Homo sapiens: one gene and its partner. The protein of the gene in region 2 purifies or fractionates together with the protein of the main gene of each other region. This does not show direct contact. Each region holds a gene or a part of one and is shown on either strand. Other genes may lie near its edges.

What was found.
Region 1: the proteins of OLR1 (region 2) and F5 purify together in Homo sapiens (affinity purification with mass spectrometry; 2 studies listed by BioGRID and IntAct, with this or other methods). This does not show direct contact.

What each region holds. Positions count from the first base shown.
Region 1 is NC_000001.11:169,525,733-169,542,076, forward strand, and holds part of F5 (coagulation factor V preproprotein), read right to left. Parts: coding exon 14,562-16,344; intron 10,949-14,561; coding exon 10,774-10,948; intron 5,291-10,773; coding exon 5,054-5,290; intron 4,087-5,053; coding exon 3,876-4,086; intron 2,363-3,875; coding exon 2,183-2,362; intron 286-2,182; coding exon 169-285; intron 1-168. UniProt on the Homo sapiens protein: Central regulator of hemostasis. It serves as a critical cofactor for the prothrombinase activity of factor Xa that results in the activation of prothrombin to thrombin.
Region 2 is NC_000012.12:10,153,039-10,169,382, forward strand, and holds the end of OLR1 (oxidized low-density lipoprotein receptor 1), read right to left. Parts: intron 16,138-16,344; coding exon 16,036-16,137; intron 13,920-16,035; coding exon 13,674-13,919; intron 7,888-13,673; coding exon 7,748-7,887; intron 7,478-7,747; coding exon of another isoform or gene 7,425-7,477; coding exon 7,309-7,424; intron 6,984-7,308; coding exon 6,842-6,983; 3' UTR 5,263-6,841; downstream 1-5,262. UniProt on the Homo sapiens protein: Receptor that mediates the recognition, internalization and degradation of oxidatively modified low density lipoprotein (oxLDL) by vascular endothelial cells.

The DNA of each region.
Region 1 (16,344 bases), on a different chromosome or scaffold from region 2:
TTTCAATGCAATCAGACCATGGGCCGGAATAAAAGCAATTATGGCTACAAATTATGCCTTTGTCACATCAGAGTTCTTAGAGTTGAATATTTCCAATCTAAAAGTTGGTAATATTCTAGTAATAGGCACTCTCCTGCCAAACCAAATATCACATGGCTCTTGTGATACCTCTGTCCATGATAAGAAATGGCGTTTGCATCCCTGCTCTCTGGTTTTCTCCAACCTCTGTGTTTAGGAGCCACCAGCCAGGTTTTGATGCCTTCATTTCAAGAGTTTTAAATGAACCTAAAATAAAAAGAACAACATTACATTTGCAAAAATTAACAAGTAAATATTGTGGTTGATAGTTCTCTAAGAATCCTAAAATTCCTGCTTCACAAGAGGCTTTCAAATAGAATTTAACCATTTTTCTTTAGGTAGGACTGAAAGTATAACAGATAAAAACAAAACAATAACAACACATACACAGAGATAACTAAAAAAAATTTTAAATCACCACCACACCTCACTAGAAGAAACTTTCACTTATCTAAATATAATGTTACAAATTAACTCACATACAATACAGCTTCACAGTCCTAATTATCAAAGTGACCTCGAATGACATCATTGGGCTTCAAAAATATCATACATGTTTCCTTTCCCTCTTTTCATTTTTGCTTTTTTCTCTTTTTTATATAAGAAAATAAAAATAAAACCTTCTTCCTCCATGTTTTCAAGTTTTCCATAAAGCTTACATATTTGAATAGAGATTTACATAAATTGCTCAGAAAAAACACTGAAAGAATGAGATTTCTAAAACCTCTGGCTATCCATTCTGGTATTTAACATTACCCCCTGGCAGTTAATATTTAAATTCTGTTGACTATAATTTATGACTGTTTCCCAGATTGTGGGTGAAAATGAATAGATATGATTATCTTCCTCAAACACACTGAAAAATGTCTCCAGTTTTCCTCTCTCCAATGCAGGTATTTAGGTTTGCAGATTTAGAGACACCAGCCAATCCTAGCTTCTCAGTCTGTCTGCAGGCTGATAGGAAGGATGACTGATCTTCTAATACTTGATGAAAAGATGAGTAAATTTGACTGAATCTCTTCTGTCTCTGATTTTAATACAATAAATTATCTATTAATTATTATATTAATTAATTAATATGATATTAATATAATACAATTAATACTCTCTAGATGTATTAGTGAGTTACTGGCATGTGAAAAACCAATAAGAACCCTCTTTTTTTCCCTGCTCTTAATCAAACCAGTCCATTTGGACTTCTGTGCCTGCATCTGAGGCAGATTCACACAACGTCACCCAAAGTGCTGTCGAGGGGCTGCCTTCACTAACTCCTCAGGCAGCATGTGTTAGGTTGGTGCAAACTATAATTGCGGTTTTTGCCATTACTTTTAATAGAAGGCAAAATAGAAGGAAGGCTGCTTGTTAAAAATACAGACTCCTTGGAATTCTGCCCAAAATCTACTTTAAAGTCTCTGAGAACAAAATCCCTCTGCCTTCACATCTGCATTTTAACTGACTTCCTAGGTTTTTATACTGCTGCACAAGTAGATACACTTACAAACAACTCATTGGCACAGAAACATCCCTTCTGTATAATTGTAGACTGTTTAAATCTACATTTATCTTTATTTTGCACATGAAAAGTTCTAAATACCTTTGTTATTCTTTAACTTTTATTATTATTTTTTAAAAATGTTTTCCTCTTCAAACAGTCTATAAGTCAGTTTAAGAATGTGATTCCTGGAGTCACTTGCCCAAAGATATTAGGGTGATAGGGCCTAGAAGAGGAGCAGAACTGAAGAATCTGGAAACCCTCCCAGCAGAGATAGCTGTAGCTGCCTGAGCCCTGTGGGATTCATTTTTTCATCTGCTTAAGACCTCATCTGTATGACACACAGTGGCTTGGGAGAAACTGCATGTTATGTTGCAACTGAGTTGGGTCACACATTTAGCCTGTGTGGTGCTGCAAATAGTTCATAAATTAGGTGACATTTTTGTACTCCGTATATACTTTGGGTCTATGGGTTTGCCTAGGCTCTATGCCAGAACCCTGTGTTCTGACCCCTTAGGAAGTATATGCACAAGGAAGAAATGAGAAGGAGTTACAGATTGCCTTTTCCCTGTATTTCTTAGCAGGGACCTCTTCCCATTACCCAATCTTTACCAGGCAGAAGGGGCCAGACCCCTAACTGGTGCTGTTTATTGCCATTTTCCAGCAAGGTCTGGCCGTGAAAGTGAACCACGTGAATGTCTTGGGAGCCGCCTATGTTCAGCAGGTGTAACCTCACCCACTCTTGCTCATACATTTTCAGGCCAGGCAAGCTGTAGATCATCCCATTAATGGCTGAAAGGACAAAGAGTTGAAATCAATTAAAAATCTGTTGACACAGAGAGGGCGAGTGGTAAGGAAATATGGGGCAACCCACTCAACACCCATGTTCCTCATGATTCTGCATTCCCAGGCCTACCTAGCCATGGAAAGGGCCCTCTTGTATGTCACATTAGTGAGAGGCTAAAGCAGAACCACTAGTCCTTCTCATATCATTCACACCAGCCTACAGCAGAAGGCAGGGGGAACTCCCTTTCCAAGCAGTTTATCACTCTTTTCCTCAGCTTTTACAGTTCCGTGCTTTACCCGTGTATACTTTCCATTAACAGTCTTAATTTTCCTTAACTACAAAAGATAAATACAAATATGGGCAGACAAAGTAAACTCCAGGGATTAGAGTCAGCAAGGAGATATGCAGCATGTCACCTTAAGGCCTTCTAAATTCAGAGAAAGTTTCAGGCAAATTAGGAAGTCTAGGAGTTTATAAAATTAGGAGTTTATCGTTGGTGTATCCAGCAACCATAGCAAGTCATGTTTATTCTCTTATTGGTATGACAACTCCTCTGCCCACTTCTCAGATTAGATAACTAGGGTTCTCAGGCTTTATCTACTCTCCCCACAGTAAAATACGCGGATTTTTTAAAAAGTTCCTGAGAAACTTGATCACCTTAAAAATGTAACACAAAACTGTAAAGATAAAGTTTAGTGTTACCAAACGTTTAACTGAAACCAAAGTGAAGGAAGTGCTTTGTTTCCTCCTTCTTAAGTTAGAGGAACTGCTGTGAAATTTCAGAAACCAGGCAGGTGAATTTTTGGAGAGGGACGGGTTGAGATCATTTGGGCATCCTTCAAATTATATCAGGCGTGAGAACACCTATCTACATATTCATAACACAAGCTCGTACCTTTCTCTTCTCAGTTTCTGTTTCAGTTACTAGCTTACAGGGCAAATTTTCCTTGTGAATTTCCAAATAGGCACACTTTTCCCAGTGTGACCACCCAAATGCTCTCTTGCCACTATTCTCCTATTACCTGGGTACCTAGTTTCTTATCTCATTTTGTTCTCATATGCTTTGGGTGCCACCTGGTAGCTGCTGAGAGCTAAAACTGTTAGCGTCATTCTTATTTTAGAAAAGACACACAGGTGATCATTTCTTTTATATAAACACTTGTGCCTTTAGAGATCCAGAAACAAGCTTATTAACTTTAAATTGCAGAACAATGTTAATTCCTTTTCAATGTATGTTACCAGCTGAAGCACACTGGCTTTTTGTTGTTGTGGTTTTCTGTTGGTTTGTTTTGCAGCAGCTTCTCTGTGCTATCTTTCAGACTTTCTCTTTTTGCCTCACCCACAGTGTCACCTGCCAGATTACATCAGCCCTCTGGAATGTTAAGGAACCGGTTTTAGTTGTAGCTCTGGGTGTCTCAGAAGCATCTCATGTCTAATCTTGTGAATATCTAAGGGCAGAAATCACTGTGACCCAGTGTGATTTAATTAGGAGATTAGATCAAAGTCTGAGGAAAATACCGTGAAACTCATGGGATTTTTTCATTTCTGAGGATGTGAGTCTCCAAGAACTTCGGGACTTCTTTTCATAGTACCAGCTCTTCTTTTCATCAAAGGTCATAAATAGTAAGACAAATTCTCTCATGTCCATAGGCATGTTGCTGTCCTTATGTAGTATTCCTTTTTGGCAGATTAGGAGGGGACCTATCAAGCCTGAGTGAATATCTTTTTCCTGGAAAAACAGAGTAAATTGTATTGCCTCTTTCTCAGGAATTTCCTTGCTCTTCTGATAATCACTCATCATATAGAAAAGGAAACTTTCTGATAGGCTCTGAATTTGAAGATGAAGATTATAAATGAATGGCATAATAAGCCTGGATATTTATCACCTAATTCTGTTGTATTCATAATCCTCCTTCCTCTGATTGATCTTTATCCCAGTAACAATGATGATAATAATAAATTGATAATATAAGGGATACTATTTATTGAGAATCTATTACTATATTAAATGATTTGCCTGCAATCTCCCATTTAATCCTGACAACTATCTTATATGGTAAATATAAATTCATTCATTGAACAAATATTTACCAAGTGCTTACCATGCACTATGTACTGTTATCTCATTTTTAACTTCTGATACCAGGCTAAGAGAGGTCAAGGAATTTCCTAGGATTATGCATTGACAGGGTAAAAATTTAAATCTGAGTCTGTGCTCTTTCCACTATGCCTGAAATGGAGGAGTTGTTTCTCTTTTTAATTGACAGATAAAATTGTATGCATATACTGTGTATGACATATTGTTTTGAAGTATATATACATTGCAGAATGTCAGATAAAGGAGTCTTGACTTTGCAGTTCTTTTCATAAAGAAAGAGCAGAACATAGCTAATACTTGTTCAAGAAAATTTCAAATAAATGCCATCTTCTGTAAATGTAGGCATTCTAATTCATGGCCAATCATTCAAGTAATCTTTCCTCCTCTCCACTGAATAAATGTTTCTCTCTCTGTCATCTGAAGAGCTGCATGGAGAGTCCCTGGTTATGATAAATGCAGACTGTTAACCACACCCTTATGCATTCCTCATGAAAAGCAAGACAGACATTTGACAAGAAATAACCCCGACTCTTCCATTTGGTGGACTTCAGATTACGAGGTTAGGGGAATGAGAAAAACTTTCAATGAAAGTACCTACTGGGTTCACAGCTGAGTAGTAGGCCCAAGCCCGACAGGCAGAGCCAGGACTTTCTGGCCCTGATCGCTCAGTGGCATGCCATACGTAGGTATAACTGCTATTTGGCTGAACAGCATTATCTTCCTTAAACCATTCAGGAGAGTCATCTTCATAAGTCTTTCCCTCTGATGATTTTTCATAGGAAAGTCCATGGGCATGTAGAGAATACGGTCTGGATGCTAAATTTTTAAAACGAACCTAGGAAAAGGAATGATCCACAAATGTACTTAAGCTTAACAAAAATCTAAACCACAAAAATGTCAGCATTATAAGTCAAAATGGCTGGTTATAAAATCGGAGCTAAGATATAAGGTACAAAATAACTTATGTATATTATTTCATTTAATTTTCATAACCATCCTGTGAGATATGGCCCAAGTAGTTTTCTCCAGAAATACCAAAAGATATTTGTTCTTAGGCTCAAGGCTAAAGTACTGACATTATCTACTAATGAAATGAGAGTGATAGGTAGTGGAGATGTGAAGATGAAAGAAGCTTGATTCTTGTTCATAAGAAGCTTTTAAGCTCCTGCTGAAACAGACATGCACATGGGCATCCACACTACAAATCTGGAGACAACAGGTGCTATATACAAAGTCTAAGTGGGTTCAGATGACAATGCCCTGGAGGAACAATTTGGTTGAATATTTAGGAGTGGTTGGAAGAATTAAGGTAAGTTTCTTAGAGGAAATGGAATTGGCCATCATAGAATGAACAGGAGCTAGAAAGACATTTCAGACTCTCAGAAGGGCAGAAGGATGCCTGTGAGCAGGGGAGTAAAGGAAGAGTTTGGGGAATAGCAAGGATCTCGGTGGAACTGGGCTGTGAAATGCACAGGGACAGGTGGAACCTGGTGAGAAATGAGGCTAGAAAAGGAGCAGGTTGGGGCCAGATGGTAAAGGACTTAAATGCCATATGAGAAGTCTTCACACCCCAGCAGTCAGACCCATGAAGCTCCTCCCAGCCCTTCTATAACTTCTAGTGATTAAAGACTCCCTAATTGTCTGTTCCTTATTTTATTCTACAAAGCCAGCATCACCCTAATAACAAAACCTGGCAAAGACACAATGAATAATGAAAACTACCGGCCAATATCTCTGATGTACATAGACACAAAAATCTTCAACAAAATATTGGCAAACCAAATCCAGCAGCAAATTAAAAATTAATTCATCACAATCACATAGGCTTCATTCCTAGGATGCAAAGTGGCTCCACATATGCAAATCAATAAATGTGATTCACCACATAAACCGCATTAAAAACAAAAACAGTATCATCATCTCAATAAATGTGGAAAAAGCTTTTGATAAAACCTAACATCCCTTCATGATAAAAACCCTCAACAAACTAGGCATTGAAGGAACATACTTCAAACTAATAGGAGCCATCTATGACAAACCTACAGCCAACATCATACTGAATGAGCAAAAGCTGAAAGCCTTCCCCGTGAGAACTGGAACAAGACATGGATGCCCAATCTCATCACTCTTATTCAACATAGTACTGGAAATTCTAGTCACAGCAATCAAGCAAGAGAAAGAAATAAAAGGCAACCAAAGAAGAAAAGAAGTTAAAGTATCTCTCTTCATTGGCAATATGATTCTGTACCTAGAAAACCCTAAAGACTCCATGAAAAGGCTCCAGGAACTGATAAATGACTTCAGTAAAGTTTCAGGATGCAAGATTAATGTACAAAATCAATTATACAAAATAAAATGTACAAATGTACAAAATAGCATTTCTATACATCAGTAATGTTCAAACTGAGAGCGAAATCAAGAACGAAATCCCATTAAACATAGCCACACACACATACAAAATACCTAGGAAAACATCTAACCAAAGAGGTGAAAGATCTCTATAAGAAGAATTACAAAACACTGATGAAAGAAATCATAGATGACACAAACAAATGGAAAAACATTCTATGCTTATGTATTGGAAGAATCAGTATTGTTAAAATAGCCATTGTGCCCAAAGCAATCTACAGATTCAACACTATTTTTTAACAACTACTGGAATCATTTTCCTCAGGATTAGACAAAGCTATTCTAAAATTCATATGGAATCAAAAAAGAGCCTGAATAGCCAAAGCAATCCTAAGCAAAAAGAACAAATCTGGAGGTATCACAGTACCTGACTTGAAACTATACTATAAAGTTACAATAACCAAAATAGCATGGTACTGATACAAAAACAGACACATAGGCCAATGAAACAGAATAAAGAACCCAGAAATAAAGCCACACACTTACAACCACCTGAACTTTGACAAAGTCAACAACAACAGCAACAACAACAACAAAAAACAAGGGGAAAAGGACTCATATTTAATAAATGGTGCTGGAATAGCCGGCTACCCATATGTGGAAGAATGAAACTGAACCCCAATGAATCCAATGAAACTGGATTCATCATATACAAAAATTAACTCAAAATGGATTAAAGATTTAAATGTCAGACCTCAAACTATAAGAATCCTAGAAGAAAAACCTAGGAAACACCATTCTGGATATCAGCCTTGGGAAAGAATTTATGACTAATTCCTCAAAAGCATTTCAACAAAAGCAAAAATTGACAAATTAAACTAAAGAGCTTCTGCTCAGCAAAAGAAGCTATCTACAGAGTGAACAGACACAGAATAGAAAAAATATTCACAAAGTATGTATCTGACAAAGGTCTAATATCCAGAAACTATAAGATAGTTAAACAATTGAACAAGCGAAATACAAATAACCCCATTAAAAAGTGGGCAAAAGACATGAACAGATACTTATCAAAAGAAGACATACAAATAGCCAACAAATGTGAAAAAAATGCTCAACATCACTAATCATCAGAGAAATGCAAATCAATACCACAGTGAAATACCATCTCACACCAGTCAGAATGGCTATTAGTACAAAGTCAAAAAATAGATGCTGGTGAGGCTGTGAAGAAAAGGGAATGCTTATACACTGCTGCTTAGAATGTAAATTAGCCACTGTGGAAAGAAGTTTGGGGGTTTCTCAAAGAATTTGAAACAGAACTACTATTTTAAGGGAGGAGACCACCCCTCATATTGTCTTATGCCCAATTTCTGCCTCCAAAGAAAGAAGAAGTAAAAACTAAAAGGCAGAAATGAAATCCACAAGCAGACAGCCCGGCGCCACACCCTGGACCTGGTAGTTAAAGATCGACCCGTGACCTAATCGGTTATGTTATCTATAGATTACAGACATTGTATAGAAAAGCACTGTGAAAATCCCTGTCCTGTTCTGTTCTGTTCTAATTACTGGTGCATGCAGCCCCCAGTCACGTACCCCCTCCTTGCTCAATCAATCACGACCCACTCACGTGGACCCTCTTAGAGTTGTGAGCCCTTAAAAGGGACAGGAATTGCTCACTCGGGGAGCTCGGTTGTTGGAGACATGAGTCTTGCCAAAGCTCCCGGCTGAATAAAGCCCTTCCTTCTTTAACTTGGTGTCTGAGGGGTTTTTGTCTGTGGCTTGTCCTGCTACAATTTGACCTAGCAATTCTATTACTGGGTATATAGCCAAAAAAGAAAATAAATTGTTCAGCCGGGCGCAATGGCTCATGCCTGTAATCCCAGCACTTTGGGAAGCTGAGGCAGGCAGATTGCCCGAGGTCAGGAGTTTGAGACCAGCCTGGCCAACATGGTAAAACCCTGTCTCTACTAAAAATACAAAAATTAGCTGGGCATGGTGGTGGGTGCCTGTAATCCCAGCTACTCGGGAGGCTGAGGCAGGAGAATTGCTTGAACCTGGGAGGCAGAGGTTGCAGTGAGTTGAGATCATACCTCTGTACTCCAGCCTGGGCGACAGAGTGAGACTCCATCTCAAAAAAAAAAAAAAGAAAGAAAGACAGAAAATACATTGTTCTACTGAAAAGACACATGTACTAGGATGTTCATCACAGCATTATTCACAGTAGCAAAGACATGGAATCAATCTAGGTGCCCATCAGTGGTGGACTACATAAAGAAAATATGGTACATATGCACCATGGAATACTACGCAGCCATAACAAAGACTGAAATCACGTCCTTTGCAACAACATGGATGCCAGCTGGAGGCTATTATGCTAAGTGAATTAATGCAGAAACAGAAAGCCAAATACCACATGTTCTCACTTATAAGTGGGAGCTAAACATTGGGTACTCATGAACATAAAGATGGCAATAAACACTGGGGACTTCTAGAAGGGGGAAGGAAGGAGATGAGCAAGGGATGAAAAACTATTGGGTACTATGCACGCTACTTGGATGATGGGATCAATCATACCCTAAACAACAGCATCACATAATATACCCAGATAACAAAACTGCACATATGCCCCCTGAATCTAAAATAAAAGTTAAAATTATTTTAAAAATACACAAATGAAGTCATTTTTATCTAGTGAAATCCAGGGCTAAAACAAAGATTCAGTATTTGATTTTTTTCCTTTTGCCTAAGGCTCCAGTATGTCTCAATGCAACATTGTTACTTATCCTGTCTTTATTCACAATTGTGAGGTTTTGTTTATTGTGGCTTTCGTGCATTAATTTTGATTTTTAAATTTTTTAAAAAACTTCAGTTGCTTTAGGAATGCAAGTGGTTTTTGGTTACATGGATGAATTGTATAGTGGTGAAGTCTAGGATTTTAGTGTACCTGTCACCTGAGTAGTGTACCCTGTACCCAATAGGTAGCTTTTCATCCATCCCCCGTTCCCTTTTGAGTCTCCAATGTCCATTATACCAATCTGTCTGCCTTCGCATACCCGCAGTTTATCTCCCATTTGTAAGTGAGAACATACAGTGTCTGGTTTTTGATTCCTGAGTTACTTAGAATAAGTTTTTTAAATATTGTGTTAAATTATCGTTCATCTTGAAAAAGGATCCCCTAATCATAAAAGAGAATATTGCCTCCCATAGCTTCATGGAAAATTTAGAATAATTAAGATTCTTATATCCCTATGTACTTGTTTACGTTTTTAAAAAGAGCAAATGGTCACTGAAAATGTAGTGAATGCTTACACAGGTATAGTAGATTATATTTTAAAATCTAGAATAGCTTACTTTAGAATCAGGGTTCTTTCTGGGTTTTTGAATGTGAGCGGTTAGCAAAAATGGCGGAAGTAAACTTTGTTATAAAAGCAAGTTATAATCGTGGGTCTGGACACAAGATTTTGAAAGAAATTACCAGAACTAGGAAGACACTGAAGAAACTTGCTCACTTTTGGAGGGCATGGAGACATCTTTACTTTCCTTACTCATTTTATTTAACTTCATTTTATTTAATTTTTAGGAAAACACCTGAAGATATTTCTAAATTACTATTACTACTAGCACTGCTACTGCCACCACCACCACCACTGCTATGAAACCCAATTCAATTGCTCTTGAATATATTAATTTTCTGTGTTAACTTTAGATAGGTTAGCTTTAGATAGAAATTACAGAAAGATTTTCCACAGATTATATAGTTTTCAGCATTTAAAAAATGAGATCTTTTTTTTTTTTAGTTCGAAGATTGCCAAATTGCTTGGCAAGGAGTCTTTGAAAAGAAATGTAATTATTCATTAATCCTGGAAAACAAACAAATCACCTATAGCTCTCTTGCCACCTGCACCTTTACAACCCTCTGGTGCTTGTGGAAATTCCTCCGAAGATCTTAGCAGTGCTCAAAAGACTTACTTGGATAACATCATCCACTTCAGCTCTGATAATAGGACCAAGAATTCCGAGATGCTCTTCATACTCCCCTCGAGGATCACGTTTGGTAAAAGTGCTGTCGAGGTACTTTCGAAAAACTACTTTCTTATATGTGGTATCTTCTGGAATATCATCAGAGTCTTCAATATCTGTTTCCCTGAAATAATAATACTATTTGTGTAAAAGAAGAAATTAAAGACTGTTCCCAGAATTTAGGAAATTGTCTCTTTCTAAATATAGCATCTAGCATAGAGAAGGTCTTTAATAAATACTTGGTGGATAAATGAGTAAATATATAAGTGGATAAAAACAAAAGCCAGTAAATATCTTTCAATTCCTAACTCAAATATTATTTTATAGGTAAGTCTTCCTATGACCTTTTAGACTAGGTCAAGTCTCTATATCAATTTCTCATATTTCTATAGTATTATTATAGTATATATAGTAAATTCCTGTAGTATTCTTATAATATCTCTAGAATATATATTGTAGATTATATATAATTTATTTGTGAGATTATCTATTAATATCTGTCTCTCACTGGGTATAAGTGCCATGAGGTCAGCCATTGTGCCTAGTTTGCTCATAGTACTCTCTCCAGTGGTAAGCACATTATCTGACACACAGCAGGAACTTAATAAATTTTTGTCAAACATATAAATGAATGTATAAATATAATCGTATGTTAACACACCAAATTTTAAGATCAAAGGCAGACAAAGCCATGTAATGGGACAGTGCCAGAGCTTGGGGCTATCAGGTGACAATGGTCAGATTAATTAGAAGGTCACACTTATGAAAGTCACTGGATGGGTGAATGTTTTGTACCCTAAAAGTAGCCACTCTTCTCACATTTGTTTTTTGCTAATGTCCATTATTCTTAAGCTTCTTGACATTGGTGTGGACAAAGATTTTTTGGATTTGACCTCGAAAGTACAGGCAACAAAAGCAGAAATAGACAAATGGGATTGCCATCAAACTCAAAAGTTTATGCACAGCAAAGGAAATAACAGAGTGAAGAGACAACCTTTGGAATGGGAGAATATTCTTGAAAACCAGATATCTGATAAGAATATTAATATTAAAAATATAAGGAACTCAATTCAGCAAAAAACCCAAATAGCCTGATTAAAAAATGAGCAAAAGACTTGAATAGACATTTCGTAAAAGAAGACATACAAATGACCAACAAATATATGAAAAGATGCTCAACATTACTAATAATCAGAGAAATGCAATTTAAAATCACAATGAGGGCTCACCTCACACCGTTAGGATGGCTATTATAAAAATGACAAGAGATAAATGTTGGCATGGATGTGAAGAAAAGGGAACTCTTGTATACTCTTGGTGAGAGTGTAAATTAGTACAGCCATTATGGAAAACAGTATGGGAGGTTCCTTTAAAAATTAAAAATAGAATTACCACATGATCCATCAATCCCACTTTTGGGTATATACCCAAAGAAAATGAAATCAGTATGTTGAAGAGATATCTGCTGTCCCACGTTCACTGCAGCATTAGCCACATTAGCCAAGATAGGGAAGCAACCCAAATGTCTATAAACAAATGAATGGATTTCTTAAATGTGATCTACATAAACAATGAAATACTATTTAGCATTTAAAAAAAAGAAAACGAAGAAATGCCATTTGTGACAACATGACTGAACCAGGAGGTCGTTATGTTACATAAAATAAGCCAGGCACAGAAAGACAAGTACTGCAGGATCTCACTTATAATGTGGAAACTAAAAACATTGAGCTCATAGAAGCAGAAGGTAGAACAGTGGTTAACAAAGGGATACAGAGGTGGAGCATTGAGAAAATGGTCAAAAGATAAAATTCAGTTAGAAGAAATAAATTTAGAAGATCTGTTGTATAAGATGGTGACTGTAGTTAATAACAACACACTGAATTTTTAACATTGCTGAGTACATTTTAAGTGTTCTAACCACAAAAAAGTATGTGAGGTAATGCATAGGTTAATTAGCTTGATTTAGCCAATTCACAATTTATAAATATATTAAAACATCATGTTTACACCATAAATGTGTATAAAACAACAACAACAAAAAAACTGGGGTACACCCATATAATGGAATACATGCAATAACCAGATGAATCTCCAGAGAATTATACTGAGTGAAAAAATACCAGTCCCCAAAGGTTACATGTTGCCTGATTCCATTTATGTAATATTCTTGAAATGACAAAATTATAGAAATGGAGATCAGACTACTGGTTGCCAGGGAATAAGGAAGGGCTATGGTGGGAGGAAGGCAGATGTGACTATAAAGGGGTAATGAGAGGGATTTTTATGGTGATGGTGAACATTCTGTGTCTTGACAGTATCAACATCAGTGTGCTGGTTGTGATATAGTATTATAGATTTGCAAAATGTTACCCCTGGGAGAAACTGGGTAAAGAATACTCAGGATACCCAAAGGATCTCTCCGTATTATTTCTCTTGACTGTATGTGAATCTATTTTATTTTTGTTCCAAAATAAAAAGTTTAATTACAAATTATAAATAAATAAATAAAGCACATTATTTCCATCTAGTTCATTGGCTCAGTCTAGGACTGAAGCATGTCGAATTCTCCCACTGACTCTCACATTTCCCAAGCCTGTGGAAACAAGCCAAACACTCACCCATCAAACCCATAATATTTGCTATATACTGTGAGTCATCAACAGAGAATCTCCTTCTGCCTTTCTTCTGGTCTACCTCCCCTACTAATCCCATCTTTCCAGACTCTGAGCATAACATGCAAACTCACAGAACACAAGGGAGTGGGTAAAGCAACTCCGAATGCCATAAAAGTGGGTTGTGAGCCTTGAATGGAATACAAGATTTTGAAGGTGGTTCCATCCCTATTCACTCTGGACAGGCCCTGCATCTCACTCCCTCGGGGCCTTGCTTAGAAATACTCAGGTAGCTAGTTGTTCTCATGTGGTATTGAGTGCAACATTTAAATAGGAAGTCATAGGAAAAGGTGTTTTAAACAGAGTTCTAATGTGGAGATGTCAGGCATCAGATTAATGAACTCATATGCATAAGTCACACCATACATTGTGTTTGCCTACTGTAATTACACTTTGGTTTTTTAAGTGATTAGTGTAACAGCTTTAGTAAAAGCTGTGGGCATATCTAGACAGCTGATGCACAGTCATCATGCTATATCCCTGAGAATTTGTAGTTGACTAAGCCTTGCTCCTTTCCTCCTCTCTCTTCTCTTTCTGTATCTTCATCCCAGAACAAAGAGCCCAGTTCAACATGGCTTTCTACCCCTAAGCAAAACTGAATTGTAAATATTCTTTTAAAAAAGGGATTTGGATCTCTTAGAAATTCTGATCTAAACAAGTAAATGCAAAAAGGAGATTTCTACATCATATTTGAGTTTGGATTTGAGGCTAACTTCAATTAAATCATATTGATTAGCATATAGCTATGGATAGGTTGGGCTCTGCCTGGAGCAATAAGAGTCAGTAGAAACATGGGTAGTAAGAGGAGAGGACACAGAAAAATGCTTAATTACAGAATATTATAGAGTTCTCACAGTGATTGTTCTTATATTGTCCAGGGGTCATCTAAGGTAAAGAAGCAATCTTGGAATTGACAAAGGAAAAAGAACAGGCCAACTTGCAATAGGGGAACCACACTGTTCTTAGTATAATTTGCCCACAATTATCCCCCTGAATTGTAGTAGCTACTTTTTTCAGCAGTAATGGAAAAATGAGAATAAAAAAGGAGAAAACTGGCCAAACCTTTGTACAAATTCTGAATAATCCCAGGATATTTCTTCAGCAGCAATGTAATAATTTCTTCTGTTTCCATTGTTGCTGCGGAGGTACCATGCTGCAATGTTGTCAGGATCTCTGGAGGAGTTGATGTTTGTCCTAACATCAGTTTTGTAGGGGTCATCATAGGGCACATAATCAATTTCAGCATAGTCATCTTCACTGCTCTGGACCTCTTCCTTTGGAATGATCTCAATGTAATCTGTACCATCTTTACTGAGGCCCACTATAACCAGTGGATTAAATTCCTTTGATAGAAAAGTATCATTGAGAGTAGGAGATGAAGGAGATGGCATCTGACCAAGGTCTGGATAAGGAAAAGACTCATTAAATTCTTGAAGAAGCAATGACTGACTAGATTCAGAAGGGTAGAATATCTGATCAAGGTCTGGAGGAGGTGATATCTGGCTGAGATCCGGGAGAAGGGTGGTGTCACTGATGTCTGGAGAGAGAGTCACCTGGCTGAGGTCTGGGGAAAGGGACATCTGACCAAAGTTTGGGGAAAGATCTGTCTCACCAAGGTCTGGAGAAAGTGTCATCTGGTCGAGGTCTGGGGTAAGGGGAATTTGACTGAGATCTGCAAAGAGGGGCATCTCACTGAGGTCTGGGGAAAGGTTTGTCTGACTGAGTTCTGGAGAGAGGTTTGTCTGGCTGAGGTCTAGAGAAAGGGTTGTATGGCTGGGGTCTGGAGAAAGGGGCATCTGACCGAGGGCTGGGGAAAGGTTTGTTTGACTGAGTTCTGGAGAGAGGTTTGTCTGGCTGAAGTCTAGAGAAAGGGTTGTATGGCTGAGGTCTGGAGAAATGGGCATCTGACCGAGGGCTGGGGAAAGGTTTGTCTGACTGAGTTCTGGAGAGAGAGTCATATGGCTGAGTTCTGGAGAGAGGTTTGTCTGGCTGAAGTCTAGAGAAAGGGTTGTATGGCTGAGGTCTGGAGAAAGGGGCATCTGACCGAGGGCTGGAGAAAGGTTTGTCTGACTGAGTTCTGGAGAGAGGTTTGTCTGGCTGAGGTCTAAAGAAAGGGTTGTATGGCTGAGGTCTGGAGAAAGGGTTGTATGGCTGAGGTCTGGAGAAATGGGCATCTGACCGAGGGCTGGGGAAAGGTTTCTCTGAATGAGTTCTGGAGAGAGAGTCGTGTGGCTGAGGTCTGGAGAGAGGTTTGTCTGGCTGAGTTCTGGAGAGAGGGTCACCTGGCTGAGGTCTGGAGAGATGACTGTCTGCCAGACTTCATGTTCTGAGGAAGGGGACATTTGACTTATATCTGTGGGGAAGGACTTGTGACTTCGGTCATACTCAAGCATTTCACTGAGCTCTGGAGAAGAGGATCTGTGACTGGGGTCTGAAGTAGAGTGCATTTGATCAGGGTCTTGAATGGGGAATGTTTGATAGTGTTCCTCTGGGGGCACTGTCTGATAAAGACCTGGAGGACAGCTTGCCTGACCAGTGTCATTTGAGGAATTCTGATTATGGTCAGGAAGTGAGGCTATCCAGCCAAAATCCATAGAGGGCAATGTCTGATTGAGGTCTGTGGGAAGAGATGTTTCATTGGATTTATGAAGCACCAACGAATGCTTAAGTCTTCTTTCTGAAAATGTGTTGTAGGCTTCACTTCTTAGAGGGTGAAAGGTCCTCGGAGATAAAGGAGCATGGTGTGTGTGCTTCTCTTTTTTCTTTTTTCGTGTCTTAATGAGAAACTGGCTTTTCTTCAGTCTACTCTTTCCTCCATCCTGTCTTACTTGTAGAGATTTATGTC
Region 2 (16,344 bases):
TTGGATTGCGTTTCAACAGCCTCCTGAGTCTCAGTGAGCTTTCTTTCCATCTAGGTTCTCATTTCTGTGTCTGTCATTTCATTCTGGTTAAGAGCCATTGCTGGGGAGCTAGTGTGCTCATTTGGAGGTAAGGGGACACTCTTACTTTTTAATTGGCAAAATTCTTTCTCTTCTGAGAGGGCTGGTATTCCTTTAACTGTGGTGTAAGTTGAATATAGTCATTTGCTTCATTTATGAGTGCTGTCAGAGGGCCAAGGCTCTGTACAAGATCTTTGTGGCTGGATTCTTGCCCTGAGTTTCACAGACCAATATTTAATATATTGGCAGAATATTTTTGGTGTAATTTGGGCTATCATCCAGCAGATGGCGCATAAGAGTAACGGCCAGCGCTGCGGGTTTTTACGTTTCAGCGAGCTCGCAACAACGTCCTGTGGTGTGGCCCAGCGCGGGGAGCTGACCCCACCAGCTCCGCTCTCAAGCCTTCGGAGAGTCCTCTCCAGTCACTATCGTCATTCCCGCATTTCCTTTGCTAGGCTGTCCGGGCTGGGCAGCTCCCTCAGGCGGACACCCATGGCTGGCAGACCTTCCGCGCCTGCCCCTAATCTGGGCATATCACTCCCTCGGTTTTCTGAGACTCGGGACTCCTTGCCCGCTGGAGCGCAGGCCATGAATCTGGGTCCCGCACTGCGGCGCTGCACGCCGCAGCCCAGGGCTTTGGCCCCAGCCAGCACATCCGCCATCCTGCACCCCAGGTTCCGGCACGGGCTGCGACGGGGCCTCGGAACTGCTCCCAAGCGGCTGGGAAAGAACTCAGTCAGGCATGTCGGCCTGCAAAGCACCCAGGATGGGCAGTGGAGTCTGCACCGTTGACAGGCTCCTAGAGCGGCCAGGCAGAGGACTTGAGAGGGGCTGGAGGGCAGGAGGTCCTGCGGAACAGAAGTGCCCCACTCCGAAGGGAAAGTCGACCCTGCTGTTCTCTTTGCGCGGCAGTCAGTGGGGTTAGAGTTATTCGGAAGAGGACGGAGAGCCTTGGGGGATGGGTGCGCATGGCCATGTTCCACTGGAACTGCCCCCAACGCAAAACAAACAAACAAACAACAACAACAACAAAAACCGGGCTCTATGCAGGCTGGAGTTCTGCCTCTGCCTGCTTGTAGGGCATATCCCCATGCCAGTTCGAATGTTTATGGGGAGTGTAGGATCTCTTGTGGCTGGAATCCTAGAGGTCCACAGCAAGAGTGGGCTGCCTTGCCAAGGGTTGTTCAGGGCCAGGAACTGGCACTGGTGTTCCAGAACCTGAAAGGGTTCCCGGTCTCCCTTTCTGTCAGCGGGAGTGGTGCTTCCTGTCTGCGTCTATTTGGCCATCTTGTCTCTGTTGACCAAATAGCTTTTTTGAGAAGAAAAATGAAATTGATAAATCTCTAGCTAAGCCGATTAGTTTTAAAAAAAAAAGATACAATTAACACTGTCAGGAAGGAAGTGGCAATGCTAAAGATTCTACAGATATTCAAATAATTTTTAAAAATGGTATGCCAATAAATTAAACAACTTAGATGAAGCTCATAAATTCCTTGAAAGTAACCACCAAAGCTCATTGAAGAAGGAATCCTTTGAACAGCTCAACATCTAAAAAAAACTGAATCTGGCCGGGTGCGGTGGCTCACGCCTGTAATCCCAGCACTTTGGGAGGCTGAGGCGGGCGGATCACAAGGTCAGGAGTTCGAGACCAGCCTGGCCAGCATGGTGAAACCCCGCCCCTACTAAAATACAAAAATTAGAGGGACATGGTGGCTCGCGCCTGTAATCCCAGCTACTTGGGGGCTGAGGCAGGAAAATCGCTTGAACCCGGGAGGCGGAGGTCGCAGTGAGCCGAGATGGTGCCACTGCACTGCAGCCTGGGCGACAAAGCAAGTCTCCGTCTCAAAAAAAAGAAAAAAAAGAAACTGAATCTGTAGTTGAAAACCTTACTACAAAGAAAACCCTATGCCCAGATGACTTCAAGGGTAAATTGTATCAAACATTTAATGAAGAAATAGTACTAATTCTAAACCAAATCTTCCAGAAAAATTGACATTGAGAAATATTTATCTGATATTCAAATAAGGCAAAGTCATAAAGAGAAAAGAAAACTATGTTTAAAAATACTGGCCATGGCCAAGCACGGTGGCTCACACCTGTAATCCCAGCACTTTGGGGGCCTAGGCGGGCAGATCACCTGAGGTCAGGAGTTCGAGACCACCCTGGCCAACATGGTGGAACCCTATCTCTACTAAAAATGCAAAAATTTGCTGAGTATGGTGGGGGGTGCCTGTAATCCCAGCTACTCAGGAGGCCAAGGCAGGAGAATCGCTTGAACCCGGGAGACAGAGGTTGCAGTGAGCCAAGATCGCGCCACTGCACTCCAGCCTGGGCGACAGAGCAAAACTCCACCTCAAAAAAAAAAAAAAAAGTACTGGCCAGGCATGGTGGGTCACACCTGTAATCCCAACACTTTGAGAGGCCGAGGCAGGAGGATCACTTGAACCTGGGACTTCAAGGCCAGCCAGGGCAACATAAGAAGAGCCTGTCTCTTTCTCTCAAATTAAAATAATTAGCTGGGGATGATGGTGCATGCCTGTGGTCACCGTTGTCCCAGCTACTTTGGAGGCTGAGGCAGGAGGATCACTTCAGCCTGGGAGGTCAAAGCTTCAGTGACCTGTGGTCGTGCCACTGCAGTCCAGCCTGGGCAACAGAGTAAGACTCTACCTCTAAAAAACCAGAACAAAATGAACAGAAACAAAAAACCCATAAATATAGTTGCAAACATTCTAAGCCAAATTTTAACAGAAATAACCCATAATATAATACATATAACAGATCTAATCCATTAATATAATGCAATCCTAAATTGTTTTAACCTTATATAATTAATGAGTGTAATTCATGTTAAAAGACTAGAAATTTTTAACCTAAAAAAAAACAAAGAAAATACTAGATATTTTTAAAATAAAAATGTATATATAATCATCTCAATAGATGTAGAAAAATATTAGACAAAATTAACACCTATTCCTGATCAGTCCTCTAAGAATGCAAGGAACAAAAGGGAACTTCCTAAAACTGATTAAGGACGTCTATGAAACATCTACAGTTTACACCATACTTAGTGGTGCAACACTGAATGATCTCTTCTCAAGATCAATTTCAAAATAAGGATATTGTTCTCACTACTTTTATTTCTCATTGAACGGGAGGTTCAGGCAAGGAAAAGAATAAAAGCATTGGAAAGGAAAAGATAGAAGTGCTTCCGCTGGCACACAGAATGATTATTTGTGTAGAAAATCTGATGACATCTACAAAAAAAGTTACTAGAAGAAACAAATAAGTTTATCAAGGTTTCAGAATATAAGGTGAATATTTAAAAGTCTATTATATTTCTCCATACTAGCAATAAACAGTTGGAAATTAAAATTATCAATGATAATTCCCATGTACAGTAGCGTCGAAACTATGAAGTATATATGGTAAGCTAACAAAATATGTAAAAATATCTGTAAGAGAAAACTGCAAAACATTGCTCAGAGAAATTTTAAAATACCTAAATAAATGCAGAGACATACTTTATTCAAGAGTCAGAAAAATCAATATTTTTAAGGTTTCAATTCTGCCCAAATCGATTTGTAGATTCAATGTAATCACAATCAGAATTCCAAAAGAGTTTTTGTAGAAATTAGTGAGCCAATTCAAAAATCAATATGGAAAATATAGTGACATAGCTCAGCCAATGTAACTTTGCAAAAGAAAAATAAATTTGAAGGACTGTCACTGCATGATTTTAAGATTTATTATAAAACTACAGTATTCAAAATAATGTGGTGGTGGTGTATAAATACGCAAATACAAAAATACAACAATCAGTGGAATAAAATAGAGAGTTTAGAAATAATCCCATGAATATACAGACAACTGATTGGTGATAAAGGTGCAAAAGCAATTTAGTAAAGAAAAATAGTCTTTTCGACAAATTTACATTTGTCGAATTAATCCCAAATAAATCATAGACCTCAGTATAAAACCTGAAGCTATAAAATGTCTAGAAAAAAATAAAGGAGAAAATTTTTGTGACCTTGAGTTAGTCAATGAGTTCTTACAAACCACAGCAGAATAATAAAAATGGACTTCATTAAAATAAAAAACTTCTGCTTTATGAGTATATTGTTCAAAGAATGAAAAGACAGGCTGGGCGGTGGCTCACACCTGTAATCCTAGTACTTCGGGAGGCCAAGGCAGGCAGATCACTTGAGGTCAGGAGTTCAAAACCAGCCTGGCCAACATGGTGAAACCCCATCTCTACTAAAAATACAAAAACTTAGCCAGGCATGGTGGTGGGCACCTGTAATCCCAGCTACTTGGGAGGCTGAGGCAGGAGAATCACTTGAACCTGGGAGGCGGAAGTTGCAGTAAGCTGGGATTGCACTACTCCAGCCTGGGCAACAGAGTGAGACTCCCTCTCAAAAAAAAAAAAAAAAAGACAAGACAAGAAAAACATTTCAAGATGCATATCTGATAAAAGGTTTTTATCCCAAATATATAAAGTTCTCAAACTCAACAGTAAGAAAAATAAACCAAGTAAAAATTCTCAAAAGATTTATACAGTTACTTTATCAAAGTTACCTAATACAGATGGTAAATAAGCTTATAAAAATTTGCCTGGGGCGGTGGCTCACGCCTGTAATCCCAGCACTTTCAGAAGCTGAGGTGGGTGGATCACCTGAGGTCAGGAGTCTGAGAACAGTCTGGCCGACATGGTGAAACCCCGTCTCTGCTAAAAATACAAAAATTAGCTGGAAGTGGTAGCGGGCGCCGGTAATCCCAGCTACTTGGGAGGCTGAGGCAGGAGAATTGCTTGAACCCAGGAGGCGGAGGTTGCAGTGAGCTGAGATTGTGCCACTGAACTCCAGCCTGAGCAACAAGAGCGAAACTCTGTCTCAAAAACAAACCAACAAACAGAAATTTGTAGGATACACAGATTAAAACTATGAGGATATACCATTCGATATCTACTAGAATCATTAAAACTATAAGACGAACCATATGAAATTCTGGCATGGATGAGATGGAACTGGAGCACTCATACACTGCTGGTAGGAATGAAAAATGGTACAACTTTGGAAAAGAGTTTGTCAGTTTCCTAAATAGTTAATCATACACCTACTGTGTGATCCAGACGTTATACTCCTAAGTATTTAACCAAGAGAAAAGAAATCCTATGTTCATACAGACTTGTACACAAATGTTCACAGCAGCTTTATTTGTAATATCCCAAAACTAAAACAACCCAAATGTCATCAACAAGTAAATGGGTAAATGAATTGTGGTATATCCATACAAGGGAATATTCAACATTTAAAAGAATGAATTCATACGAGCATCAAGATGGAGACATATGAATCTCAAAATAATTATGCAAAGTGAAAGAAGCCAGACAAAAAAAAAAGACATACTATATGATTCCATTCACATAAAACTACAAAATGCAAAATGAAAGCCGATTGGTGGTTTTCTGGGGAGGAGTCATCAGGAGGAGCATTGTGACACTTTGAGGGATGATGGATATGTTCACTCTCTTAATTGTAGTATGCATGTTCTCCACAAGGTGTGAAAACTTATCAAATAGTACACTTTAAATATGTTCAGTTTATTTTATGTTAATTATATCTCAATAAAGCTTTTAACAAAAGCAAACATCTCTTGCCTACATAAGGATGACACAGCTCTTAAAAAAAAAAAAAGATTCCTGCTAGATTGTGTGCAGCAAAATAAAAAGGCTTCCTTTAAAGTAGAATAGCCTGTGAAGAGTGGGTGGAAAGGAAATAGAAGCCTAAAAATAGAAGATATATTTCTAATTCCATCTGTTTCTATTCAGCGATATTTGCATACCTGGCTTAGTTTGTTCTAGATTGAGTGTCTTCATTTTTTTTGTCTTGTATGTTTCGGAATTATAGCATAGCAAAACAGAGTTGAGAAGAGTTCATCTACAAAAGGTATGTTCTTTAGGGAAAGAAATTCTATTCTTACCTCTGGGCCACACATCCCATGATTCTAACAAGAACTGTTGTGAAGGGTTAAATCTATTAATCTGTCCTCTGGTAGAAAAAAAAATGAAGAAATAATAACTGATTCAGGAAGTGGTAACAGGTTGTGGATTAGCTTACAGAAAAGACCACTCACTTACTAATTACTTTCTTGGGCTCCCCACTTGTCCCAAAATGTGTGTGTGTGTGTGTGTGTGTGTCTGTCTGTCTGTCTGTCCGTAAGTGGTAGAGTCTGGAGATGGACCACAGTTTAAAAACCAAGGATTGATACCTTTTTTAAAGTTAAGAACATGAGTTTCTTGATTTCGGAATGGCCTCTGTCCTTCTTTGTTTCTTCACGTGCACTTTTTCCCAGACATATTTCCCCTTTTTGCTCTCTGCCTGCACTTGAGCAAGTTCTCCATGTTCTGTCTTTCATGCAATTTTAGGAGTGTGAGGGGAAGGTGATAATGAGGTAAAGAAGACTGAGTTCAGAGGGTTTTCAAGCTTGAAGAGGAGTCAAATTTTAAAATAAAAAGGGGAAAATGGACTTCAGGCTGGCAGGGAAGCTTGGGACAAGCTAGGTGAAATAATACAGGTAGCTAGAATCAAAAATGTTGACATAAAGGTGCCAGGCTCCTGGAACCCCAGTTTCTGCAAAGGAGTTCTGCAGCCAGCTAAATGACAGTTTTCTGGGCTCTCATGTTTGGCACCCAAGTGACAAAGAATAGCTTAAATTCCAGAATAAAACTCAAAGACTTTTTTCTTTTCTTCCAGAGCCTTCAAATTCACTGTGCTCTTAGGTTTGCCTTCTTCTGACATATACTGAAGGCAGCTAAAATGCAGTTTTCCGCATAAACAGCTCCTCGTTGTATATATGCACAGGTACCTGAAGGGTATGTCTGGGAGACAGCGCCTCGGACTCTAAATCTGCAGGTAGGAAAAAACAAAACAAACCAACAAAAAAACTTAGGTTTACTGCCACCTTGTTTCAGAAACTTAGCTTTTGAAACTTTTTGTCTTAAAGCCTCCAATCAGTAATAAATGTGGGAAGGAAAACTCAAGAAAATGTCTGAATGGTTAATGAGTAAATCTTTTTGTGAAAGAGGTAAGGAAGGAGACTTTGAGAAATTCCCCCAAGCTTCTCTCTGGCAAGAAGAGGACATTGGTGGGATGCAGGCAGTGACCTCACTAGCAGGTTCAGCAAAGAATAGGAAACTGACGAGAGAGGCATCAAAAAGAATGGGAAACTTACAAGTGGGGCATCAAAGGAGAACCGTCCTCCCAGAGCCATGGGTAGCTGGGGTTCCTCCGAGACAGCCCCATCCAGAATGGAAAACTGGAATAGGAAATTGCTTGCTGGATGAAGTCCTGTGGGGAGTAATGTTTCTGAGTTTGTGGAATCCACATGGTGGTTTTAGAATCTGAAAGTCAGTTAGTGTTGGATCCACAAAACTAAAGAACCAAAAGGTATCTTTGACATCCCCTTGACTGTTTTACGGAAACACTTACTGAAGGCTAGAGATACTACAGAGCCTGTCCGTCCAAGGTCATACACAAAATTGGTGATCAGACTAAGCTAAAAAAACAGACATTTTGGCTCTCAAACAAGAATTCCTCCAGTGACAGTTTAAACCAGATTAATTTCCCTATCAACCAATACTCCACCCCAACAAATATCCATGAACACTCACCAGATCAGCTGTGCTATTAATTTTCAGCAACTTGGCATCCAAAGACAAGCACTTCTCTTGGCTCTTTTCCCAGTTAAATGAGCCCGAGGAAAATAGGTAACAGTTTTCTCCATGCCAGATCCAGTCTTGCGGACAAGGAGCTGGGAAGGATAGTATATCTCATCAGTCAGTTATGTTTGTGTAAAAGCAGTACTGCAGTTCTTAAATCAATGATCCCCTTAGTTCTCTCACGTGCATACTATTTATTTTTGTTTTTGTTTTTGTTTTTGTATTTTTAGTAGAGATGGGGTTTCACCATGTAGGCCAAGCCTCCCAAAGTAGTGGGACTATAGTCGTGAGACACCGCGCCCTGCCCACACTACTTCTTAAGTAAAATTTTACCCAGGTTCTGCAAATACCTAAATAGCCTCAGAGTCCTTATTTCTTCATTTTTTGGGAAAAAAAAGAAAGAAAGAAAGCATACTGATTTTAGCAACCTAAATGTACTTCTCATTTAGCATTTTCACTTCCCCTGATGAAAAGCAAGTTAAGCTAGCATGTAATTTTAGAAACTGATCTATTTTTTAAAGTTGTGTTGGAAATAAAGAAAGTGAGGGTTGGGAGAACAGATATTTAATAGCCATTCTGCTATTTTTAAAAAGTAATGCTATGCATTTTAAAATTTCATATCTTTGAATAATGAATCTAGGCTTAAATACTATGTGTCTTGCTTTCAGACATGTGTTGTCTAATACAGTAGCCATATGTGATTCTTGAGTACTAGAAATATAGCTAGTTTGCATTTCTTAAAACAAATTATTTTAATTGAAACAGGGTCTCGCTATGTTGTCCAGGCTGGTCTTGAACTCCTGGCCTCAAGCAATCCTCCTGCCTCAGCCTCCCAAAGTGCTGGAGTTACAGGCATGACCCACCACACCCGGCTAGTTTGCATTAAGATGTACTATAAGTGTAAAACACACAAAAGATTTTGAAAACTTAATTTGAAAAAGAAAAAGAATGTAAAATAGTCCATTAAAAATTTTTATACTGATTAGTATTGAAATAATATTTCAAATATCTTGGGTTAAATAAAATGTGTTTCTAAAATTAATTTTATCTGCTTCTTTTTCATTTTTATGTGGTTACTAGAAATTTTAATGATATATATATATATATATATAAAAAACACATACTATATTTCTTTTGTACAGAGTTGTTCTAGGGAAAATAGTATATTAATATAAAGCGAGGATCTCAATTTAAACGAGATTTTAGAAAATAAGGAGATTTTCAGTAGCAAAATTCACAGGGAGTCCACCAAACCAAAAACAGGACTTAGACAATAGGCAAAATATACCAATGTCTACATGTTTATGGATGCTTTCAGGAACCCTCAAATCATCACTATCATCACCATCATCATCATCATCTCTCCCATCTCCTTAAGGGGAAACAAAGTACTCTGGTCTACACTACAACCAAAAGGTGAAAAATTAAAATCTTTGAGAAAGGCAGCATTTTAATTTCATTCTCACTGTGGCATAAAACCACTAAATAAATGTATAAGAGTAGGCTTTATCAGAGAGGAGAAAATAGGAGGGACTGAAAAACAGAAAAAAGTGAATGAGAAAGAGCATACAAAACACTAAGTTGATTTTTCACCAAACTGATGCTTATGAAAAGAAAAAGAGACCAAGTTGAAAGCAGTCAATGCAAGCTTCTTACTTCTTAGTTTGCCTAACCCCATCATATTATGTAAATATAAATATATGTACGTTTTTGGCTGGGGGTGGTGGCTCATGCCTATAATCCCACCACTTTGGGAGGCTGAGGTGGGTGGATCGCTTGAGGCCAGGAGTTCCAGACCAGCCTGTGCAACATGGCGAAACCCCATTTCTACAAAAAACACAAAAATTCACTGGGTGTGGTGGTGTGCGCCTGTAGTCTCAGCTACTTAGGAGACTGAGGTGGAAGGATCACTTGAACCTAGGAGGTGGAGGTTGCAGTGAGCTGAGATCATGCCACTGCACTCTAACCTGGATGACAGAGGAAGACTCTGTCTCAAAAAATATATTTAGATGTATATAAGTTTTTTGTGGACTAAAAAGACAGTCTGGGCAAGTTTTCCCAGTTATGACAAAGTAAGAAGGACACATTACAAAATGTAGTATTTAAACTTACTGTATTTCTTTGTGTGTGTGTGTGTGTGTGTACACAAAAATAAACAGAGTAAGTGATATTTGTGTTTGTTAAATTATATAACAATACAAATATCACTTACTATGTTTATTTTTTATATAATTTAACAAACACAAATATCACTCACTATGTGCCAGAAACTGTTGGAAGTACTGTACAGGTATTAACTCATTTAATCCTCACAGTATCTCTGTGAGATAGGTTCCAGTCATTTTCTTCATTTGACAAATAGAGAAGAATCTGGACCTAGATAATGTAACTCTAGAGTCTGGGTGTTTCACCACTATAACATACTACCTTTCAAACTTCTAAGTTAAAACCATTTGAGGAAGTGTTTCTCGGTGCTGCTCTCGAGACATTTTGATACAGAATCTTGAGGTAAATCTGTAATCTGCCACTTTTAACAATCTATTTACATACAGTAAAGTTTGAGAATCACCACAAATTCCATTGCTAAATGTGAAGTCTATTCCTGCAAAGGCCCTGCATCTCACTAGCTCGTTGGCCTAAAGCAAACATATAATAACCTCTCAGCATCTCTCCCTCCTCATATATACATTGAAGACCACAGACTTTTTAGTAAAAAAGATAAAACTTGCCTCAAACTGGAAAAACTTGGCTTTTTTTTTTTTTCTGTATGTGGTATTTTAGTATTACTTTTTAAAGACTTCTCAAAGCTCTTTGGTGGGCCGGGCCTGGTGGCTCACACCTGTAATCCTAGCACTTTAGGAGGCCAAGGTGGGTGGATCACGAGATCAGGGGTTCGAGACCAGCCTGACCAACATGGTGAAACCCCGTCTCTACTAAAAATACAAAAATTAGCTGGGCGTGGTGGCAGGCGCCTGTAATCCCAGCTACTCAGGAGGCTGAGGCAGGAGAATTGCTTGACTCCGGGAGGCGGAGGTTGCAGTGAGCCTAGATCGCACCACTGCACTCTAGCCTGGGTGACAGAGCGAGACTCCGTCTCAAAAAAAAAAAAATGCTCTTTGATGAAAGGCAAAACTTTATTTGCTATCTCTACTAATTAGCCTTTATCTGACACTGTCAAGGAATGGAACATGTTACTTGGTATATCTGCCAGCATCAGACATATCACTTATTGTTTTTTATTAGTTGTTCATCCAGGGCATCTCTGGGAGATAGTTCTGAATGGTCCTGATGTAGATTTAATCCCATACAACTGATAAAGACAAAATTCTCTTCTGGCCTTGCCTGTGATATAAACCATTGGTTAGTACGTGGTTATGTCCGCTTTTATAAACATTCCTATCCTTAATAGATAAACTTTCTCCCTTTAAGCCTTCTTGAAGGTGGTATATTCATTTCCTTGCAAGCTCCAACTTTAAAGAGATTAAAAATGTTTGACACTTGCTAAAAATTATTTTGTTCAAAAATTTCTGCTAATTTTGAAAATGTAAATGACCTCTAAATAGTGAAGGGATTTACAAACTGCAAAACCTTACACAAAATTACTTTTTATTATCATTTCACTTTATCCGGGTCTCAGTGTTCCACCTATCAAGGAAAAGCTTAGGTATCTGTGAACTATTATTATATGCTCTTTATTCAAATAAATTATGTGGTTGAGATTAAGTAAATTGTGCAAGCAAGAAGCTAGAGAGATCTCTGTTTATTAGAGGAAGTTTTTCTCTAATCCTGACAATAGGGCACTAATTTACGCACCTCCAAGGAAACAAAGTACCTCTGAATGACTCTCTCTCACACCTTTTAACTCTCCCTATGCCTAAAACCATATACCTGATGTAATGACATACTGCAGAAAGACCAAATAATACAGTAGCTTCTGTAACAATATCAGAGTTCACATCATAGTCTTCTTATAGATGCTACTATTTCTGCCTGCCTCTGGATTCTGAGTCCCTTTAGACGGCTAAAATTAACTCATTTCTTCTTATATAAATAGACTTCTTGGACTCCTCATATTTTTGTCTAATCTGAAGTATCTGCGTAAGGCTTGCAAGCCAGTCTACCTCCATTGGCTCTATTTAAATTGATGGGCCCGGCACAGTGGCTCACACCTGTAATCCCAGCACTTTGGGAGGCCGAGGCGGGCGGATCACCCGAGGTCAGGAGTTCAAAACCAGCCTGGCCAACTTGGTGAAACACCATCTCTACTAAAAATACAAAAATTAGCCAGGTGTGGTGGCGGGTGCCTCTAATCCCAACTATTCGGGAGGCTGAGGCAGGAGAATCCCTCGAACCCGGGAGGCGGAAGTTGCAGTGAGCCGAGAATGTGCCACTGCCCTCCAGCCTGGGGGACAGAGCGAGACTCCCTCTCAAAAAAAAAAAAAGAAAATTGGCCGGGCGTGGTGGTGGGTGCCTGTAATCCCAGCTACTTGGGAGTCTGAGACATGAGAATTGCTTGAACCCTGGAGGCGGAGGTGGCAGTGAGCCGAGATCAGGCCACTGCATTCCAGCCTGGGCGACAGAGCGAGACTCCATCTCCAAAAATTGAAATCAAATAAAATAAGTTGATGTAGTACACTTTAAGAAATAATGCCACAGAGTGAGCTAATGTAGAGTTAGGGGTAGACAGTTGCAAGGACAAAAAGATCCCTTAGAAAAAGAAATACAGTGATTAAAATGCATTGGAATGGAAAGAGATAAGGATCTATGGAATGGGGTGGGGGTGGCAGAATTCTTCAAGAAAAATGTCAAAACTGCTACTAGGGAGGCTGAGGCAAGAGAATCACTTGAACCCAGGAGGTGGAGGTTGCAGTGAGCTGAGATCACACCACTGCATTCCAGCCTGGGTGTGACACAGCGAGACTGTCTCAAAAAATAAAAAAAAAGAAAGAAAAATCTCAAAACTAAAATTTTAAAAAGAAGAGGCTCTTATAAAGAAGGAAAACTTAAATCCACCAAAAGGTATGCTTAATTAAATCAGATTTTTCAAGGATTTGACACAGCATAGGGTGGTTCTGATTAAAAATTTAGAACTTCTTGCCGGGTGCGGTGGCTCACACCTGTAATCCCAGCACTTTGGGAGGCTGAGGCAGGCGGATGACTTGAGGTGAGGAGTTTGAGACCAGCCTGTTCAATATGGCAAAACCCTGTCTCTACTAAAAGTACAAAAATTAGTTGGGCATGGTGGCTCATGTTTGTAATCCCAAGCACTTTGGGAGGCTGAGGCAGGAGAACTGCTTGAACCCAAGAAGCAGAAGCTTATTGAACTGAGATCACACCACTGCTTTCCAGCCTGGGTGACAGAGCAAGACTCCGTCTAAAATTAAAAAATAATAATAAAATAAATAAAAAATTGACCGAGAGCGGTGGCTCATGCCTGTAATCCTAGCACTTTGGGAGGCCAAGATGGGTGGATCACCTGAGGTCAGGAGTTCGCGACCAGCCTAGCCAACATGGTGAAACCCTGTCTCTACTGAAAATACAAAAATTAGCTGGGCGTGGTGATGGGAGCCTGTAGTCCCAACGACTTGGGAGGCTGAGGCAAGAGAATCACTTGAACCCAGGGGGTGGAGGTTGCAGTGAGCAGAGATCACACCACTTCACTCCAGCCTGGGCAAAAGAGCGAAACTCCATCTAAAAAAAAAAAAGAAAAAGAAAGAAAAAGAAAAAGAAATTGAGAACTTCTTGTATAGAACATTATGAATGAATAATGATATGCATAACAATAGACCAATTTTGAGCCCAGAATTGTTTCCAAAAAATAGTTATGATTGGACAGAAAGCTTCCACTATGTCTCCTTACCCACCCTTCTCCCAATACCTGAACAATTTGCTACTCTCTTCAGTGTTTCTTGGAGATTCAGATTCTGGTGGTGAAGTTCCATTTGCTCTTTGGATTTCTCATTCAGCTTCCGAGCAAGGGTTTCTATCATTTCCTTGAGTTCGTTTTCTGACTCCTGTGAAGCTTCTTCTGCTTGTTGCCGGGCTGAGATCTGTCCCTCCAGTTTCTTTTTCTGGTGAGTTAGGTTTGCTTGCTCTTGTGTTAGGAGGTCAGACACCTGGGATACTGAATCACAGTTGCATTAAGACTCTAGTTCTAATCCAAATAAAAATCCCTCCAGGGACTTTTTGAGGAAATCAAAACAGAATTAAATCTATTTTGACAATAGATAAGCTGCTGAAAAATGACCCAGATTTACTCAGAAGTTACAGATTTGGAGGTTCTTGAATATTCCTGCAGTATTTTGTTTAATGTCAGGAACATTGCAAACACTTGTAATTTTTTTAAAAATTACCAAGATTTTGGCCAGGCACGGTGGCTCAGGTCTGTAATCCCAGCACTTTGGGAGGCCGAGGCAGGCAGATCACGAGGTCAAGAGATAGAGACCATCCTGGCCAACATGGTGAAACCCCATCTCTACTAAAAATACCAAAGAAATTAGCTGAGGGTGGTGGCACGCGCCTGTAGTCCCAACTACTCAGGAGGCTGAGGCAGGGGAATCACAGTGCCACTGCACTCCAGCCTGGCGACAGAGGGGGACTGTCTCAAAAAAAATAAAAAACAACAACAACAACAAAAAAAACCCAAGATTTTTTTTTATTGAGTTACAAATGAAAAGTAATCACAAGATAACCAGTACAGCATTAGAATAAATAAAATAAGGAAAACCTGAAACAGACACCCACCAGACTCAGTGACTATTAGTAGGAAATGTCATTAGCGATTTACTCTATTTATGTCTCAATTCCTCTGCTGTGTCTCCTCCCATTCTGTCTACTCTTCCAGACTTCCTAATTTTAAGAACTGTGACATACACCCCTTTTTTGAGACAGCCACGCACACTGTGTCACAAGAGTCTCCAAGAATTTTTTCTTTTCTTTTTTTTTTCCCCTTGGCCACGGTACATTTTAGGAAGGGTGAAGATAAAGTGAAGGTTGTGAAATCAAGCAGGCGATAACATGTTAAGGGTCAAATGTCTCAGTTCCTGAATTTTGATGGTGCAATACAAAGCAGACCGCTTGGTTTGAAGGCAGCTTTGATCCTGTTATAAGATGATCAAAGGCTCAAAAGATTTTTCTGGTCACCACCACTAAGTCAAGGGCACTTCTCCTTGTCACTAGGAAAGGCCCTAAGTATTTACAAATTTAAAATAAAATAGTTTGTGAGCTTGAACAACAGTTAGGAAGCAAATAGCACTTCAATGGCCATAATAACCTGGATCCTGGGTAGCCTAAACAACTCAGTTCTACAACCTAAATTCACAGGCAGTTCAGGTGAACGTTGGGCACCATTTTCTTTCCTTCTTGGCCACTCTGGGCCATCTTTTCACTTCTTTTTTTCCCTCAATATCTTCTCTTTTCTAAATGCTCTTATTATAAATGTGAAATATATTTTATTTTAAATGTTTTATTTATTAAGATTGTGTTTCTGGTTCTTAACATTAAAATGGTATTTAATTATCTCTATCAAAACTCAGCAAGCTAAATAAAATTTCTTTTACTTTTGGGCCTCTCAGATGATCTTGGATATTAGTAACTTTAAGTTATTATCTTCTCCATCATTCTAGAATTTAAATAGGCTCTATCCATGAGGTTGGTTTTTTGTTTGTTTGTTTTGTTTGAAATGGAGTCTCGCTCTGTTGCCCAGGCTGGAGTGCAATGGTGCAGTCTCAGCTCACTGCAAATTCCACCTCCCCGGTTCAAGCTATTCTCCTACCTCAGCCTCCTGAGTAGCTGGGATTACAAGCATGTGCCACCACACCCGGCTACTTTTTGTATTTTTAGTAGAGATGGGGTTTCACCATGTTGGCCAGGCTGGTCTTGAACTCCTGACCTCAGGTGGTCCACCCACCTTGGCCTCCCAAAGTGCTGGGATTACAGGTGTGAGCCACCGCACCCGGCCTATCCATGAAGTTATGAAAACAAAAGAAACAAAACAAAACAAAACAAACAAACAAAAAAATGCCTACCAATTGTAATTTTTATTTCATGGCTCTATCCATTGGAAGATGAACAATATACCCCTTTATTTTCATGGTCACTCTTAAAAACATTTTGCCTAAAATGAATCTATATCAAGGCTGTTTGTAGTTGTTATGAAAGAAACTTATAAACCATATTTATTAACCTCATTTCCAACACCCCTGCCCCAATAAACATCAGTTCCGTATTTTAGCACTTACATTGCATGCCCAGCACCATAATGGTCACTACTAATCCCAGGCAAAGGACCCCTAGAGTCGCAGCAGCCAGGCACCACCATGGAGAGTAAAGAAACTGAAGACCTAGAGTGACAGAGGATAGAATCAGAAAGACAAAAAAGAGTGAACAAGTAAGCAAACCATTCCTTGGAGCCTGTCTGTACTTGGTGATTTACTCTGTTTATGTTTTAGTAAATAGACATAAATAGTTTGCATTCCATACCACTAGTCCTCCAAATGGCTCTGCAAATAATTCATCATACACATTTAGGAATGGAAAACAGGGAGAGT